Linked DNA regions of Homo sapiens: region 2 is linked to region 1. A link means that fine-mapping ties the variant in region 1 to the expression of a gene that starts in the linked region. Tissue or cell type: sun-exposed skin. Region 1 holds a variant in brackets; the other region holds the start of a gene. All regions are shown on one strand. Distances are between the middles of the regions.

Evidence for each region. PIP is the estimated chance that this variant, and not a neighbour inherited with it, causes the effect.
Region 2: it holds the start of PRXL2A, and the variant in region 1 is fine-mapped to the expression of PRXL2A in sun-exposed skin (GTEx, PIP 0.98).

What each region holds. Positions count from the first base shown.
Region 1 is chr10:80,429,635-80,437,737 of GRCh38, forward strand. It overlaps PRXL2A (peroxiredoxin like 2A), which reads left to right. Exons shown (of 6, transcript NM_032333.5): 6 at 2,352-7,481. The coding sequence ends at 2,465. Among named protein-coding and RNA genes, the nearest start is that of TSPAN14, 21 kb to the right of the region's middle. The variant A/G (reference allele first, on the strand shown) is at 4,522.
Region 2 is chr10:80,405,512-80,413,614 of GRCh38, forward strand. PRXL2A (peroxiredoxin like 2A) reads left to right here and starts at 3,040. Exons shown (of 6, transcript NM_032333.5): 1 at 3,040-3,132. RefSeq lists a silencer at 2,819-3,108 and enhancers at 3,394-3,987, 4,834-5,333.

The sequences.
Region 1 (8,103 bases):
CCTGCCCCTAGCCTCTCCTGCCCTTCCCTGCCCCTAGCCTCTCCTGCCCTGCCCTGCCCCTAGCCTCTCCTTGGAGGTGTTTCCCAGCGACCACTTCCTGATGTCCTTATGCTTGGGCAGGCCACTTCCCCAGTGGATTGCCCATCCTCTTCCCACTCTGACAACGTGGGGTTCCTTCCCCTACCCGCCTCTGCCTTCTCATGGCCTCTAGGGCAGGGCTTGGCATGCCTGCCAGCCTTTTCTTGCCTGGCGATGACTCATCTGGTGCTCATGGGCCCTACTGGCATGTTTCTGATGTTGCTAGGTGTGTTTGACTTTTGTTCGTATTCCCTGGAGCCCCTGGCCTTCATTCTCCTAGGCGGAAGGTTAACTGGCTAGCTGAACTTCAGGACTTACTTCAGTTCTTGTTGGGTGTAGAGTTTTTGTAGTCTAAAATTGGGGTGGTGGGGATTTCCTTTTTTTTTTTTTTTTTTTTTTTTTCTGGAGACAGAGGTTCACTCTTGTTGCCCAGGCTGGAGTGCAATGGCACGATCTCAGCTCACTGCAACCTCCACCCCCCCGGGTTCAAGCGATTCTCCTGCCTCAGCCTCCCGAGTAGCTGGGATTACAGGTACCCGCTGCCATGCCCAGCTAATTTTTGTATTTTTAGTAGAGGCAGGGTGTCACCATGTTGGCCAGACTGGTCTCAAACTCCTGACCTCAAGTGATCTATCCACATTGGTCTCCCAAAGTGCTGGGATTACAGGCGTGAGCCGCCGCACCCTGCCTGAATTTTCTTTTTAATAATAATCTTGAAAGCATTCTTAAAGAAGAAGCAGCTGGGCAACATAGCAAAACCCCATCTCTATAAAGAATAAAAAAGTTTAGCCGGCGTGGTGACATGCACCTGTAGTCCTGGCTACTTGGGAGGCTGAAGCAGGAGGATTTCTTGAGCACAGGAGTTCAAGGCTGCAGTAAGCTATGATCGCACCACTGAACTACAGCCTGGGAAACAGAGCAAGACCCTGTCTGTAAATAAATAAATAAAAAGTGTGTTTGCACTACAGAAAATTTAAAAACAGCAGAACATAGAAGGTGGGGAAAACCATCCTATGAGCTCAGCCACCGTGGAAAATCCACTGGAACAAAGCTGAATGGCCTTTCCTTTTGTTTTGCTTTGCTCTAGAAAATTGTACTAGATGTTCTTTTTTCATTTAACAGTATATTGTGAACATTTTCCTATGTCACTATATATTGTTAGTTTTTTGTTCGTGTTTTTGTTTGTTTGTTTGTTTAGATGGAGTCTTGCTCTGTCGCCCAGGCTGGAGTGCAGTGGCGCGATCTCGGCTCACTGCAACCTCCGCCTCCCAGCCTCCCAGGTTCAAGGGATTATCCTGTTTCAGCCTCCTGAATAGCTGGGACTAAAGGCTTGAGCTACCGTACCTGGCTAATTTTTGTATTTTTAGTAGAGACCGAGTTTCACCGTGTTGGCCAGGCTGGTCTTGAACTCCTGACCTCAAGTGATCCGCCCACCTCAGCCTCCTAAAGTGCTGGGAGTACAGGTGTGAGCCACAGCACGCAGCCTATTAGTATTTTTAATGTCTGTATTATGGTTTACTGAGCAAGTAAATATAATTTTCTGATCTGCTTGCCCATAATCTCTGCAGTGTGGTGGGCCTTTTTTTTTTTTTTAAGTCTTTATAAATAATGACACAGTGTATTTACAGATTTTCTTTTTAAGATGAGTTTCCAGATGTAATGAATCAAAGAACTCTAACAAGGATTCCTTGATGCTGATCTCAAACATGTTATTTTGTCTTTTTTTTACTACCTCCAACTTTAGATAACTTTGGGGTATCTTGTGTCTTAGTGCATTTTTTTTCACTGTATGAGAAGAAAGTGGCTTCCAGTTTCTTAGAAGACTAAAGAAAAATGAGGGTCTCTCTTTTAGATGGTCATTCAGTGCCTTCCAAAGTCTAACCTCTGAGCTCCACTTCCACACCTTTGGGCCTTTCTGTGTTAGCTTCATTTTTTTCTCTTCACCTGGTATGTTCTTTTACCTGCATCTCTACTTGTAGACATCCTGGTTACCCTCCGTGCCTCTGTGAGGCCTTCCCTGATTGCCCTTGTCATGCTTTATCACTTCTGACTTCCTGCTTCTAGAGCTGCTGGTACAGGCCAGATGGATGTGGCCTTCTCCGGTCTATCTTCCCTCAAAGACTGAACTCCTTGAGGGCAGGAGCCAGGCCATATTTGGATCTGTGTCCTTTGCTATTCAAGCAAAAGGCTTGACAGACAGCTGGTCCTCGATGCCTGTCTCATGAACGAACGATTTAGGATGAGGACTGACATTATCTCTTGTTTCCTTTTAGGGCATTCTTCTTGAGCACCGAGAAAAAGAATTTGGAGACAAAGTAAACCTACTTTCTGTTCTGGAAGCTGCTAAGATGATCAAACCACAGACTTTGGCCTCAGAGAAAAAATGATTGTGTGAAACTGCCCAGCTCAGGGATAACCAGGGACATTCACCTGTGTTCATGGGATGTATTGTTTCCACTCGTGTCCCTAAGGAGTGAGAAACCCATTTATACTCTACTCTCAGTATGGATTATTAATGTATTTTAATATTCTGTTTAGGCCCACTAAGGCAAAATAGCCCCAAAACAAGACTGACAAAAATCTGAAAAACTAATGAGGATTATTAAGCTAAAACCTGGGAAATAGGAGGCTTAAAATTGACTGCCAGGCTGGGTGCAGTGGCTCACACCTGTAATCCCAGCACTTTGGGAGGCCAAGGTGAGCAAGTCACTTGAGGTCGGGAGTTCGAGACCAGCCTGAGCAACATGGCGAAACCCCGTCTCTACTAAAAATACAAAAATCACCCGGGTGTGGTGGCAGGCACCTGTAGTCCCAGCTACCCGGGAGGCTGAGGCAGGAGAATCACTTGAACCTGGGAGGTGGAGGTTGCGGTGAGCTGAGATCACACCACTGTATTCCAGCCTGGGTGACTGAGACTCTAACTAAAAAAAAAAAAAAAAAAAAATTGATTGCTGTGCCTCATTACAAATGCATATGATGTTTGAGTGCTGTTGTTTGAAATTATTTTTCTTTTCGGGTCTTCAAAAATTCAAGAAAAGTTGATGATTGACTTGAAGATTACAAAATTTAAGGTTTTTTGGCATGTGTGTTTTCTATTAATAATTGGTTATATGATGTCAAAGTAATACTTTCATAATAGAATTGACATGCTCTGGGATAGTTTGACAAAGGTAAATTATAAAGTGAAATCTCTTGTTTCATTATCTTCCATTCTAACCTCAGAGATCTGTTTCTCTAGAAAAAATGTCCATCTCTGGCTTTAATAAAATTATGCATCAGAAATCACCTGTATGTATAAGATTTTCTGATAAAACTAATAATTATATTTACCATATAATTGGCTGAAAGTAAAAAAAGTCAGCATTCTCCATGGCTGAGGGGTAAAGTGCCTCGGGGGATTCCTCTGGTTCTAGCTATCTAAGTGGTTTGAAAATGACCAGGAAAAATTCATCCTGTCATTCACGTTAGTAATTTTGCTGTCTTTCCTAGAGGAATGACTTTGGTGTTTAAAATTGGTAGCTGTTTTTCTATTGGTCTTTTAGCCTAATTTGGCAAATCAGAAGAAAGGACATAGAGATGATGAAATATAACTTTATCTTTTTTGTTTGAATTTTGTCGTGTAAGTTTGAGTGACATCATCAAGACCTACCAGGGAGCTCGGCCACAGGGAGTCTACTCAAGGCATCAAACTGGCCCAGGAGTAGAAAGGTGGGGGTGGAAATAGGAAATAGTGTTTACCCAGGGGACTGGCCCAGCCAGGAGGAGAAAGGAATCAGTGTTTACCCAGGAAAGCAAGAATGGATACTGATGTTGGAGGTAAAGCTGGGAAAGTAGGAGAGCATCGGGATTGAGTATGCAGAGTGAGTTAGGGTTGAGTGGTTCGGGACTAAGACCCACTAAGACCATGCCTGCACCTGACTTCATGTAGCAGTGGTTGCATGGGGTATGCATGGGCCCTTAAAGGGCTGGGCTTCTGCAGCATTTGAGGCCATAGCCTTTGGTACTTGCACAGGGTTGGTACCTGTCATCCTTGGGACTCCAGCTACTGATAGGATAACTCAGTACCTAAACTTAGAACTTTAATACCTAAGACACTTGATGGTGAAACAGTTCTCTTGCAACTAAAGAAGAACCTGAGGTCAGGTGTGGTGGCTCACGCCTGTAATCCTAGCACTTTGGGAAGTCGAGGTAGAAGGATCACTTGAGGTCAGGAGTTCGAGACCAGCCTGGCCAGCATGGTGAAACCCCATCTCTACTAAAAATACAAAATATTAGACAGACGGGGTGGTACATGCCTGTAATCCCAGCTACTTGGGAGGCTGAGGCAGGAGAATCGCTTGAACCCAGGAGGCAGAGGTTGCAGTGAGCCGAGATCGTGCCACTGCACTCCAGCTTGGGCAACAAGAGCGAAACTCCATATCAAAAAAAAAAACCTGAGAGGAC[A/G]TTGCACCAATGGAGATGCATCAAGAGAAACATGTTTGGTTTTTTGTGAGCTCTCACCAACTTTTTTCCCCTGGGTCCTCACGTGCAGTGTGGTCTTCTCTTTCTGATTAGCATGTCATTTTGGAAAGAGCACTGGATTGAGTCATGAGGCATAATCAATTTCTAGTTTACCAGTGTGATCTTAAGCAAAGATCTAACTCATTGGCAAAATGGGCGTGATTCCTTCCCATTCAGGGCTGTTTATGATAAGTCACTGAGGGAATGATAAATATTATGACACTGCTTCTCAGACTGTAATGTACATGCACATCACATAAGGACCTTATTAAAATGGAGACTTAAAAAGCTGGACGCTAAAGGCAATAATGACAGATTTTACTCAATAACTACTGCAGAAGGAGAGAGTCCTCAGTATAGAACTGAGCTTAGCTCCAATCTGTGCAGAGGTGATGGAATTTTAAAGAGGGGAGGGAGGAGGTTCAAATAGAACTAGGGAAGTGCAAAATTACAAAAAGCTGGTAAGGAGATTGGTCAATGTGATTCGGCTATCTGTGTCTACTAACTCTCAAATTTATTTATCAAAGTTAGGATCCTAGCCTCCCACAGAGACCAGGAGTCGGCCTTATCATTCCTGATAATTATATGACAAAGGGATGGCTCCCAGAAAAAGTGAGAAACACATTCCTGTGCAGCAGAAGATACATATATCCCCCAAAGGGACAGAAAGGATTTACAATTGTAAATTTTATAAAGTATGTCCTCTAAGAAGAGGGAGGGACTGGGTGCCATGGCTCATGCCTATAATCCCAGCACTTTGGGTGGCCAAGGTGGGTGCATCACCTGAGGTCAGGAGTTCAAGAGCAGCCTGGCCAACATGGTGAAACCCTGTCTCTACTAAAAATACAAAAGTTAGCCTGTTGTGGTGGCGCGCACCTGTAATCCCAGCTACTCGGGTGGCTGAGGCAGGAGAATCGCTTGAACCCAGGAGGCGGAGGGTGCAGTGAGCCGGGATCACGCCACTGCACTTCAGCCTGGGTGACAGAGTGTGACTCCATCTCAAGAAAAACGAGGGAGATTAGAAACCTATGATCAGGCATTGGCTGAAACAAATGGTAAATTCTTTTGGCAGCCTTGAGCTTCCCCAGGCAGGGACCCAAAGGGGCCTGGGTTATCCCTGAGACAGGGCCTTGAGCTGCTAGAAACTATGCTAGTGTTTGTTCAAGTCTCTCCGTGTCCGGGGTGAGCAAAATTGTTTGTGCTGAAAATCAATGATTTGCAGCTCTCAAGATTCCAGTGGGCAGTCTGGGTGGGCCTGAGTTTCTGCTTTTTTTTTTTCTTTATGTACAGGGTCTTGCTCTGTCACCTAGGCTAGAGTGTAATTAGTGGCCCCAGTCATGGCTCACTGCAGCTGCAAACTGGCTGCAAGCTGTTCTGGCTCAGCCTACCAAGTTACTGGGCTTACAGGTGGATGCCACCGTACCCAACAGATTTTATTTTTGTAGGGATGGGGGTCTCCCTGTATTGCCCAGGCTGGTCTCAAACTCCTGGCCTCCCAAAGTGTTTAGATTACAGGTGTAAGCCACCACACGTGGCCAGCCTCTGCATTTCTAACAGGTTCCAGGTGATCTTGATGTTCTGCTGGTCCATGGGTCACACTTTGAGAAGCATGGTTCTAAAGGACTATACAGATTAAAGTCATTAATCTCTGTGGGCTTTGGACTTGAAGTTTCAGCAGCCTTTGACAAGCATTTGCAGGTTTCCTTTTTATTTATTTGATAAACTGAGAATCCACATGCAAAGAAATGCAAGAAAATTCAAAGAACGTAAGAAAATGTCCTTGCTGTAAAGCTGGTGGTTCTCAATCTCGGATACACAGTAGAATCACCTGGTGCGGGGGTTGGGGGCGGGGTGCAGTGTAAAAATTATTAAATCAGAATCTCTGGGGTAGGCCCCAAGCAACTTTTTTTTTTTTTTTTTTAGATAGAATCTTGCTTGTCACCTAGGCTAGAGTGCAGTAATGCAATCATGGCTCACTGCTGCCTTAACTTCTGGGCTCAAGTGATATCCTCCCACCTCAGCCTCCCTAGTAGCTGGGACTACAGGCGTGGACTACCACACCCAACAAATTTTTAAATTTTTTGTAGAGGCAAGCTCTTATACTATCTTGCACAGGCTGGTCTCGAACTCCTGGGCTCAAGCAGTCATCCTGCCTCAGCCTTCCAAAGCTCAGGGATTACAGACATGAGCCACAGCACCAGGCCAACAATATTTCTTAAAGCTCCTGGAGTGATTCCAATATGCAGCCAAGGTTGAAAACCACCCTTTAAAAGGCTCGGCATCCAGTGTGGAAGACCAGCACACTCACGTCAGGAGACCTTACCTGGAGCCAGGATGCCCCTGATCATCTCTGATAACTTTAAAAGGAAGGCCTCAGAAGCAGCCCCAGAAGCAAAAGTTTCTCTCTGACCTTCTCCTGCCCTCTTGTTTCTGGCTTTTCATTCTCCCCCAAGGCTACCCATAGAAACTAGAATCCCTCTTCCCCAAGGCAGGTCATCAGAAACCAGAACCGGTTTTACCCAAAGCCAGCCATAAAACCTAAAAATAGTCCTCTCACTCCCCATTCCCCTTTCTGTGTAAAAACTGGTTGGAAAGAAATGATCTGACCTACCGTGTTTGACTGTCGTAAGATACCCATTCCAGAGAGGGTCCCACCCCGTGCCCAGAAGGAAGGAATCCTGCACAGAGAGGCCAAGAAGAATCTAGACAGCCTTGCTGGGTTTCCCCTCTCAGTCTATTACTATTAGATCATACCCTTCTTGTCCAATCATATTTCTACACAGTCCATAATCTGTTGAACCTAAACATAAAAATGGACAATTCCCCTGTATCTTGGGGTCTTCATTCTGAGGGCTCACATACAATTATGATCAAATAAATTTGTTTGCTTTTTCTCCTGTTAATTTGCCTCTTGTCAGTGATTTTTTCAGCAAGTCTGCAGCGGGTGAAGGGCGAGTTTTTCCTTGGCCCTAGCAGTGGCAAGGGTCACAGATGGTGTGGACAGGGGTGCATGGGGAACCCCCAGCTGGAGGAACTTCCAAGGCAGAGATTTGGATAGCGAAGCATGGCTAGGGGAAAACGGAGGAGTCTAGTCTGTTTTGTTTACCTGGTTCTATGTCCTCTCTCCCAGTATGCAGATTTCTCAAAAGCAATGCCTGTGTCTGCTTCCTCTCTTTCCCAGAGCAAAGCATACCATTGCAGTGTAGGGGAGTGGAGGGCAGGGAAGGTGAGCTGTGGGGAAGAGGCTGTAGGGGCTGTGAGGATAGAGGGTGGATGCAGTCAGGGCAGACTGCAGTTTCTTCCCAGCACTAGCTGCCCTCCCTCCATTCTGGGTTGCCAGTGCCCCATGGGGCAAGCAAGAAGGTGTGTATTTGTCAGTTTATGTTTGGGAGGGGAAGGGAAAGAAAGTTGATTTGTTCTCATTTAACCCTTCAAATCCTTTCTACATTTAAAGGAGGATTTGTCATTTTGTTTTGAAGACAGTAACAATTGAGGATGATAGTGGGTTAGATCCCTGGATTAGGG
Region 2 (8,103 bases), 24 kb before region 1:
TGAGACACACTGTGGAAGTATAGGATTTTTTATGCTTAAAACAAATAAGAAAGAGCTGAATTCAGGGATATTGGCATATAGAGAAAATATTTGAAGCTGATCTATGCACATCTATTTTTGAGATTCACATACAAGTCTTGTTCTTGATTTCGCTTTTACCCATCCACAGAATGGTAACCTGGGCCTGACATATTGAAGTGAAGTATCAGTTTTTGCTCTATTTTCATCTTGATGCTAGCTGCTTCCTGACTGTTCCCAGCGAGCCCAGACACCACAGGGCCATAAGCTTAAAAAGATCATGTTACTTCAGTCACTGCTGAGTAGCAGACGAAGCTGAAGCCAGCTGAATCTAGAAGTGCTATGACGCTGAAAAAGTCAGGAGTCTTTACCCAGATCTGCCTCCTGCAAGCAGTGTTTTCTGCCTGCCCTATGGGACTTGTGAGGGACAGAAAAGTTTCCCAGCCCCTGTCAAGATGGTAACATTATCTAAAGTTATCACAAAGCTTCTAGTCAACCTTAATTTCTACCACCTGAAATTCAGAACCTAAGGCTATTTTACAATCTTTACAAAATTTAAATTATTTTTCTCTTAAAAGCTGGGCAGGTTGGTGGGTTTTCTTGGTTTATTCTTCAGGTTTTTTGTTTTGGTTTGGTTTTTGGTTTTAGTCCTTGAGCTTTGTAAATAAGTTTTCCTGCGCCTGCTTGCCTGTAACTTATTTTTCTGGTCTAATGACTGTTTTTTAATGAGTTCAGCCTGTGCTTTCTTGTACAAAAAGAAACGTGGGCATGTGAGGAGCATATTAATTAGCTATCAGATGTAGCCTGGTTTTTGAAGTCCAGATCTTCAGGATGTTACCGAAGTGTAAATATAAGCATGACTTTTGCACGTGATTAGTAATTACATCACAGTTAAAGCCTCAGGGGACCTTCCACCCCAGAATTCTGCTATCCTCAACCCCTGAATGGCTCTGTCATTAATGGTCAGTCTCCAAGAACTCATTTCCCAAGGAAATGACTTCCTGTTTTGTTCTAAGTGGCCTTCCCTGCAAACCCTCCTCACCTTTGAACTTCCTATTTTGGGATGGAAAGATTGACCCTTCTCCCGCTCCTCTTCACAAGGTAAGGAGAAACAAGGGAGAAGAAAGAAAGGTCCTCTGGAGAGAGATATATGTATCATACATATCTTATACATATATCATATATATCTTATATATCTCATATATATCTTATATATATCTTATATATCATATATATATATATATATATATATATATATATAAAACTACACCCGCATTGCACCAAAGTATACGAAATATTTTCTGGCCTTCAAATCATATGCCTAACTCCTGCAGGAAAACTGCATGGGCACTCAGGCTGATCTCCCTTACCCCACAACTTAGATCCACCTCTCACGTTTTCTAAGTTTATTTCCACGCTGTCCCTGGGCCAGGCTCTAGGGTCCCAGAGGTGAAGTGGAGGAATTCACAGTTTGGTTGAGGAGAGACCCCCTTGAATAGATCAAGCTCCCCAAGTGTTGCTGTAAGTTTACATGGAACATGGAGTCTGAGTGGGAAGTCAGGGAGGTGAATCACGGAAGCCTTTGGACTTTGTACACCTGTGGGCAGCTCCCAGATGAAGGGGGGAAGGTGTTGCAGGCAAATGACCACCTTTGACGGGCGGACATCGGCCTGCTTTGCCACTTCACCTTATGCTGCCCTGTGACTGGTCTTTGCACTGTGTCACCGATATGTCTTTTTTTTTTTTTTTTGAGACGGAATCTCACTCTGTCACCCAGGCTGGAGTGTAGTGGCACCATCTCGGCTCACTGCAACCTCCACCTCCGGGGTTCAAGCTATTCTCCTGCCTCAGCCTCTTGAGTAGCTGGGACTACGGGTGCGCGCCACCACACCCGGCTAATTTTTGTATTTTTAGTAGAGACGAGGTTTTGCCATGTTGGTCAGGCTGGTCTCGAACTCCTGCCCTCAAGTGATCTGCCCGCCTTGGCTTCCCAAAGTGTTGGGATTACAGGCATGAGACACCGAGCCCGGCCAACCACTAATATGTATCGTGAGTCAGCTCTGCTGTCTCTGAAAGTCCAACCTCCTACTTTTTGTTTTTTGTTGTTAAGACAGGGTCTTTTTTTTGTTTTTTAAAGACAGGCTGGAGTGCAGTGGCGCGATCTGGGCTCACTGCAACCTCCGCCTCCCGGGTTCAAGCGATCCTCCCACCTCAGCTCCAGAGTAGCTGGAAATACAGGCACGCGCCACTATGCCTGGCTAGTTTTTGTTTTTTACGTAGAGATGGAGTCTTACTATGGTGCCCAGACTGGTCTTGAACTCCTGGGCTCAAGCGATCCTCCCAAAGCCCTGAGATTACAGGCGTGAGCCAGCGCGCCGGACACAACCTCCTACTTTCATGAAAGAGTGGGCACTTCCAACAGGAGGAGTAAGTGGATGAGCGGTGTGTGACACACCCGCCTCAGCGTCGCCCGGAGTCCGCAAGGCTGCGGCTCACCGTTCTCTGCCCCATAGCTGGCATTGTGGAGTGAAAGGGAACGTGGGTGGAGGATTGAGGTTGGAAATTCTGAATCTGTACATACAGCTTGAAGGGGCTCATCGAATGTGTCGGTCCTTTAGATTCCCCCTGCCCATGGAGGTTAAAAAAAAAAAAAAAACCTATCAAAAGAGCTATTCAAAACCAGGCTGAAGATTGGAAGGAAGTTGGCCAGCCTCGGCTGCAGGACAGGTGCTTCCAGGCTCCATTAGGGGTGTCCAGCGCCTTCTTTTGCCCTAGGCAGCGCCCTGAAGAACGCGTCGGGGCCTCGGTTCGCGGACTTGAGGAGTGGACCGACCGAGCGCTGTGCGTAAAAGGACCGCTGGGGCACACGCCCGAGCGCCACCGGAGCTAGGAGACCGCGGCCCGGAGGTCGGCGAGTCGGGGGCAGGCCCGGAGCTCCTCCCACGGGGGGCGGGGCGGGTCACATGGCGGTGGCGCGGTAGCGCGCGATGCAGCACAGGCTAGAGGCTGCGCAAGCGCGGGGCCCGCCCCTGGGACCCTCCGGGCCGGGCGGTTTGGCCCCTTAGCGCCCGGGCGTCGGGGCGGTAAAAGGCCGGCAGAAGGGAGGCACTTGAGGTAGGTGCTGCGCGCCGGGGCTCCGCGAGGCACGTGATGTCCGTAGGCGGGGCCTGCCGCGGCGTAGGTGGGGAAACTGAGGCAGTGCAGGGCCGGTAGGGTGGGTGCTGGGCTGGTGAGGCGCGCCCCTCGGGCCCGCGCCAACTTTCTTAGGAGCCGCCGCAGCGCTGGCGCTCCCTCCGAGGACGACGACCCTTCCGCCACCCTGCGTGGCGGCCGATGGAAAAACCCTGCGCCCAGACGTCGGAGAACGGAGACGGGGACCCGGCGCTGCTGCGGCGGGCTAGGGCCCCCTCTGTCCACGCCCGCAAGCCTTGAGTGACGCCGGTGGCGCCAACCTTCGCGAATTGTTGGGACAAAGAACAGAGGAGAGGGCCCTGCCCTGGAGCATGGGCCCGGGGGCCGCCCTGCTGGACCAGCCCCAGGTGCGGACCTGGCAGTCCTCGTCCTCGTCTCTGTGCCCGCTTAGGGTCGTGTCTTTTAAGAGGGCACGGTTTCTAGCGTTGTTCAGCGTTTCGGAGGCACCTGTTCCCCCTCTTTCCCAAGAGTCACAAACGCCTGACTTTAAATTGGGTAGAGCCCAGTTGTAAACTTAACAGCCCTGCTGAGGTCTAGGAATGAAAAGATGAACAATCTGCCCCCAGGGTTGTTGCTGGAGCGGGAGGTGAAGGCGCAGGTGGAGATGGTTAGAGGCAAAGGAAGGGAAGTCAAGGCCCAGCCGGTCCAGGGCTGTGGGAAGGAGGCACACCCGGGAGTCCACTGCCGGACCGGGGTTCCCAGCTGCTCCTGCGCCTCTTTTCCTTGCCACATCATGCTGTCTGCACAGCCCAGCAACCCAGAACTCAGCTTTTTTGTTTGTTTTATTTTAATGTATTTTCCTTTGAACCTGGCAGGTGGTTTTTCAAAAAGAAAATAATCAAGATTTGTTTTGAAAAGCATTGTGAAAAAGTCAGCTTGAATAGTCTTGAATGCTCCTGCTCGGGCCCAGCTTTGGAGAATGAGGATTGGGATTTCCACTGCAGACCCCGACTCGTTACCATACTCATTCATCAGAAAACTCTTCATTTTGTGTACAAATAACGTTTTGAGGGTAATCATTGCTCTAGAAATGAAGAATTATACATCGTATTTATTGCACTTTTTGTAAGGTACCTCACAAGGCACCTCCTATACATTTAATCCTTTGATTCTTGCAACTCTGTAGAAGGTAATTAAGGAAGCATTCCCATTTTACTGATGCAAAACAGTTCCTTGTCCAGGTTTATACAGCTTGCAAGAATTAAAGTTAGATATTATTCTTGGTGTGGGCCTTTCCTATATCCCCGTCTTTTATAAGAGCATGTCATTTAGTTGAGACCTTCTGCATTACTTCTGAAGGGGTACAAAAGACATTTCTGATGATTTTCTCATCTCGTGTCATTTAAATGGTGCTCAGAAAGTTTGGATAGGACTGGAACTCTAGGGCTCAAGCCCCAGGCTCTGTCCCTATCTAAGCAATAGGGCAGCTGTCCTGCCAGTTGGGTTCTTGCTTCTTTGTGAAATGTTGAGCAGAAGCTCCAAGTCTCTCTGCTGTGGCTTGTGTGGCAAGAACCATCCTGAGGTTCTGTGCAGAGAGCCAGCCTCACCTTTGAGCTCAGTGGCCTCTGGCACAGGGAAATTACAGCTGGGCAGTGTCCTTTGCCTTCTCTGGCACTGCTAGTGCAGGAGGCAGTGTTAGCTGCTACAGGAATAGCATGGAGCGGGCCTGCAGGCCAGAGGGGCTGAGACAAGCCAGTGTTCCCACCAGACCTAGAACGTTCACCAGAAAGCAGGCCTGCAGTGACACAGCTGCAGAAGTTCACTATTTTGTGCCTGTCCTGCTTCAGATATCCTGTCTTTATAGGGGCACGAGTGAATCTGAGCCCTGCAAAAGAGAGAAAGATAATGCTGCTTTGCCGTTTTCTAGTGCGTTACCGCATTAAAAATTGCTCTTCTTATATAATCTTTATGACAACTCTTTAAAGTGCCCTTGTTTTTAAGAAGACACTGAGGTTCAGAGGGATAAAATAACTCTCAGAGTCAAAGAGAGAAAACCCAGGATTATTGGCTTTTAGCCCAGTGTCTTCTGTGGTATTGCCTTGCCTTCCTATCCACACCCATATAACTTGATGAAGCCGGAGTTCTGAGCCCAGACAGGAGGCTGTGCAAGTGAGATTAGAATGGCTTGCTCTTTGAGGGGTGGGGGGCCCTACAGCTTGAGGAAACAAGAGGACATAATCAGCTACTGGGAAACCCTGAGATACGCCCAAGAGTGAGGAATGTGGGGGCTGGTGCTGCTTTCAGCATCTATTCAGAGGTTTCTGAATCTGGCATTTGAGAGTAGGACTGGGCCAGAACCAGGCAGATACACACCCCAAGGAGCAGGGCTGAGAGTTGGAGACTGAGGCAGGTAGGTGAGAGCTCATTGCAAGTGACTGATTTTGTGGTATATGAAGACAAGGGTGGGTGGAAGGGCATCTGTTGCTCATAAGGCTCTGTGTGCCTGCATCATCAGTATGCTAGACAAGGATGGACAGAGTCTTGTTATTGTGGGGAAGAGAGGTGCAGAATGGCTTCTCAGCGGAGACTAGGCAATGAGACCCTTAAGACATTTGGCTTCAGATTATAAGCTGCTTACCAAGGATTGGGCTTGGGAGAGGCTGATGATGTTCTCTCCAGGCAGCAGATTTCCCAGGCCCTGTTTACGGGCAGTCTTGCTCTTAGCTTGCCTGAGGCCAGTGAACAGGCTTCAAGACCTGCAGGGCCCCACTTCCTGAGCCCAGACTGCCATGCTATTCCAGCCTTAGAGGCCACTGGCCCTTGGCTGGCTGCCCAGGACCTAGCGTGTCTGATGCAGGATAAACAGTCATGGACTGGAAGTTGGGAGACCCAAACCTGAGTCCCAGTGCAGCCACTGACAACCTGCCCTGCCCATGTGACCTTGGACTAGCCAGCTCCTTCTCTGAGCTTTAGTTTCTTCATTTGCTCAGTAAAATGAGCTGAACCAGCGCTTTGAGGGAAGGAGAGGGAAACAGAGGAGACCAGAGAAGGAAGATGAAGCATCCTTTCAAGACTTGTTCACTGAGGGCCTGAGGCAAGGAGGCCCATGTGCACTCTTAGTTTTTTGTCTCCCTCAGCACCTTTTCTTGCTTCTCCCCTATCTCTGCCTCAGGCCAGCTCATTCTGAAGAGGGACGATTCCCTGGGTGGGGCTGGGCTGGGCAGGTGTACCCTTGATGTTTAGAATATGATGCTGTCTCTACTTGTTTCAGACATGATTTAACTCAGCCAGTGCTGATACTTTGTTTCATTAAGACTTTATCAGTTCCTGCCCAGAGGCAGCTCCTGGAACAGTCAGGAGTTAGGCCCAGCAAAGGAGGCAGGGTGAATGTGCACACCCAGCAGAAGAACAGTGGTGGCAGGGGTTCCCATGGCTTTCTAGACATCAGATCCCTGTAGTTGCAGTCACATGGTACTTTAGAGTCTTTGGATGTCAGAGCTAAGACAACCTCATAGAATTTTGAGTTCCTTCCTCTGTATAGATGATGAGATCCAGGCCCCGAGTGTCTTCATACCTTAAGTCAGATTGCCCTGCTAGTGAGCAGTAGAGCGAGGACCCAGCCTAAGGTTACCTAAGTCCCAAGCTAGAGTGTTTTCTTTAATATCAAGCCAGCCCTGTCCAAAATTGCCTTTCATACTGAACTGAAATTGGAATTGAGTAGTTATAAGTTCCAAGTCTGCCTCACTGTGGAATTCTAAGAGTAAAATTCAGATAATTTAATTAACATTTAATGCCTGATAATTACCAGGATCTGTGTTGAGTGCTGGGGATGCAGGAATGAAGACGACAACACATTGTGCCAACATATTGTGGAGACAGACATGTAAATAACTAAAATTTACACAATTCATTTGTGCATTGTGCAGGGTTATGGGTGTGTGCGCACACACATGCACGCTATAGAAGAGGTCAGTGAGCAGTCAGTTGTCAGGGCTTTCAGGAAAGGCTTTGGAGAGGAAGTGTTATGTGTGCTGGGCCTTATGAATAAGTAGGCATTTACGTGGTTGGCCTGGGTCAGAGGGGGGCATCCCGGGCAAAGGAAACAACATGAGCAACACTTGCTGAAGCCAAGCTGTGGAGGGCCCCATCAGCTGGCTTGCTGAGGAGTTTATTGTTAGTGAGAGTCTGAACACAAGGGAAAGGTGTAATCAGGTGGGGGTGTGCTGGGATCGCTCTGACTACGGCTTGGAAAATAAACTATAGAGGACCAGACTAGAACCAAGCCAGATTCATTCTGTGGTTCTTGAAATAGGCTAGGGACAGAGTTATAGGATCCTGGGTTTGGGCAGCAGCAGTGAGGTCGAGAAGAGGATGGGTAGCAGATACATTTTAGAAGATGGACAGAACTTCCTGAGTCGATGTAGGCAGTGAAGGCAAATGAACAGTAAAATGTGAACCCCTGTCCCCCACTGTCCCCCCTCCCTGCCCCCCCATCTACTGAGCCATGGAACTCCAGCAGAGAAATCGACTTTAGTTTTGGATGTGGTACAACCAAGACACCTACAAAACCCCCAAGTGGAAACTTTGGGTCAGAACAGCAATAGGAACTTGGAAGTCAATAACAAAGTGGTGGGAGAAGTGCTGGAAGTCACCCAGGAAGGGAGTGTGGGTTGAGGGAAGCCACCGATGTGGCAGAAAAGGAAGGGAAAGCAAAAGGAGGTAAAGAATAGACAGCAGATGAGGGGCCTCAGAGGTGCCAGCTGACTTTCCAGGCCTGGGGTGAGGAATGGGGCAAGGGAGCAGGCTGCACGAGGAGCCACAGAGAAAAGGACATCTTCTTTTATTTGCGCTAGTATGACATGTGGGCTGTGTTACGAGCTTTGCTTCTTTAGTCTGCACCGGATAGCAGAGGAGTCTGGTGGCACTTGGGAAATGTTATAATCTGCATGACTG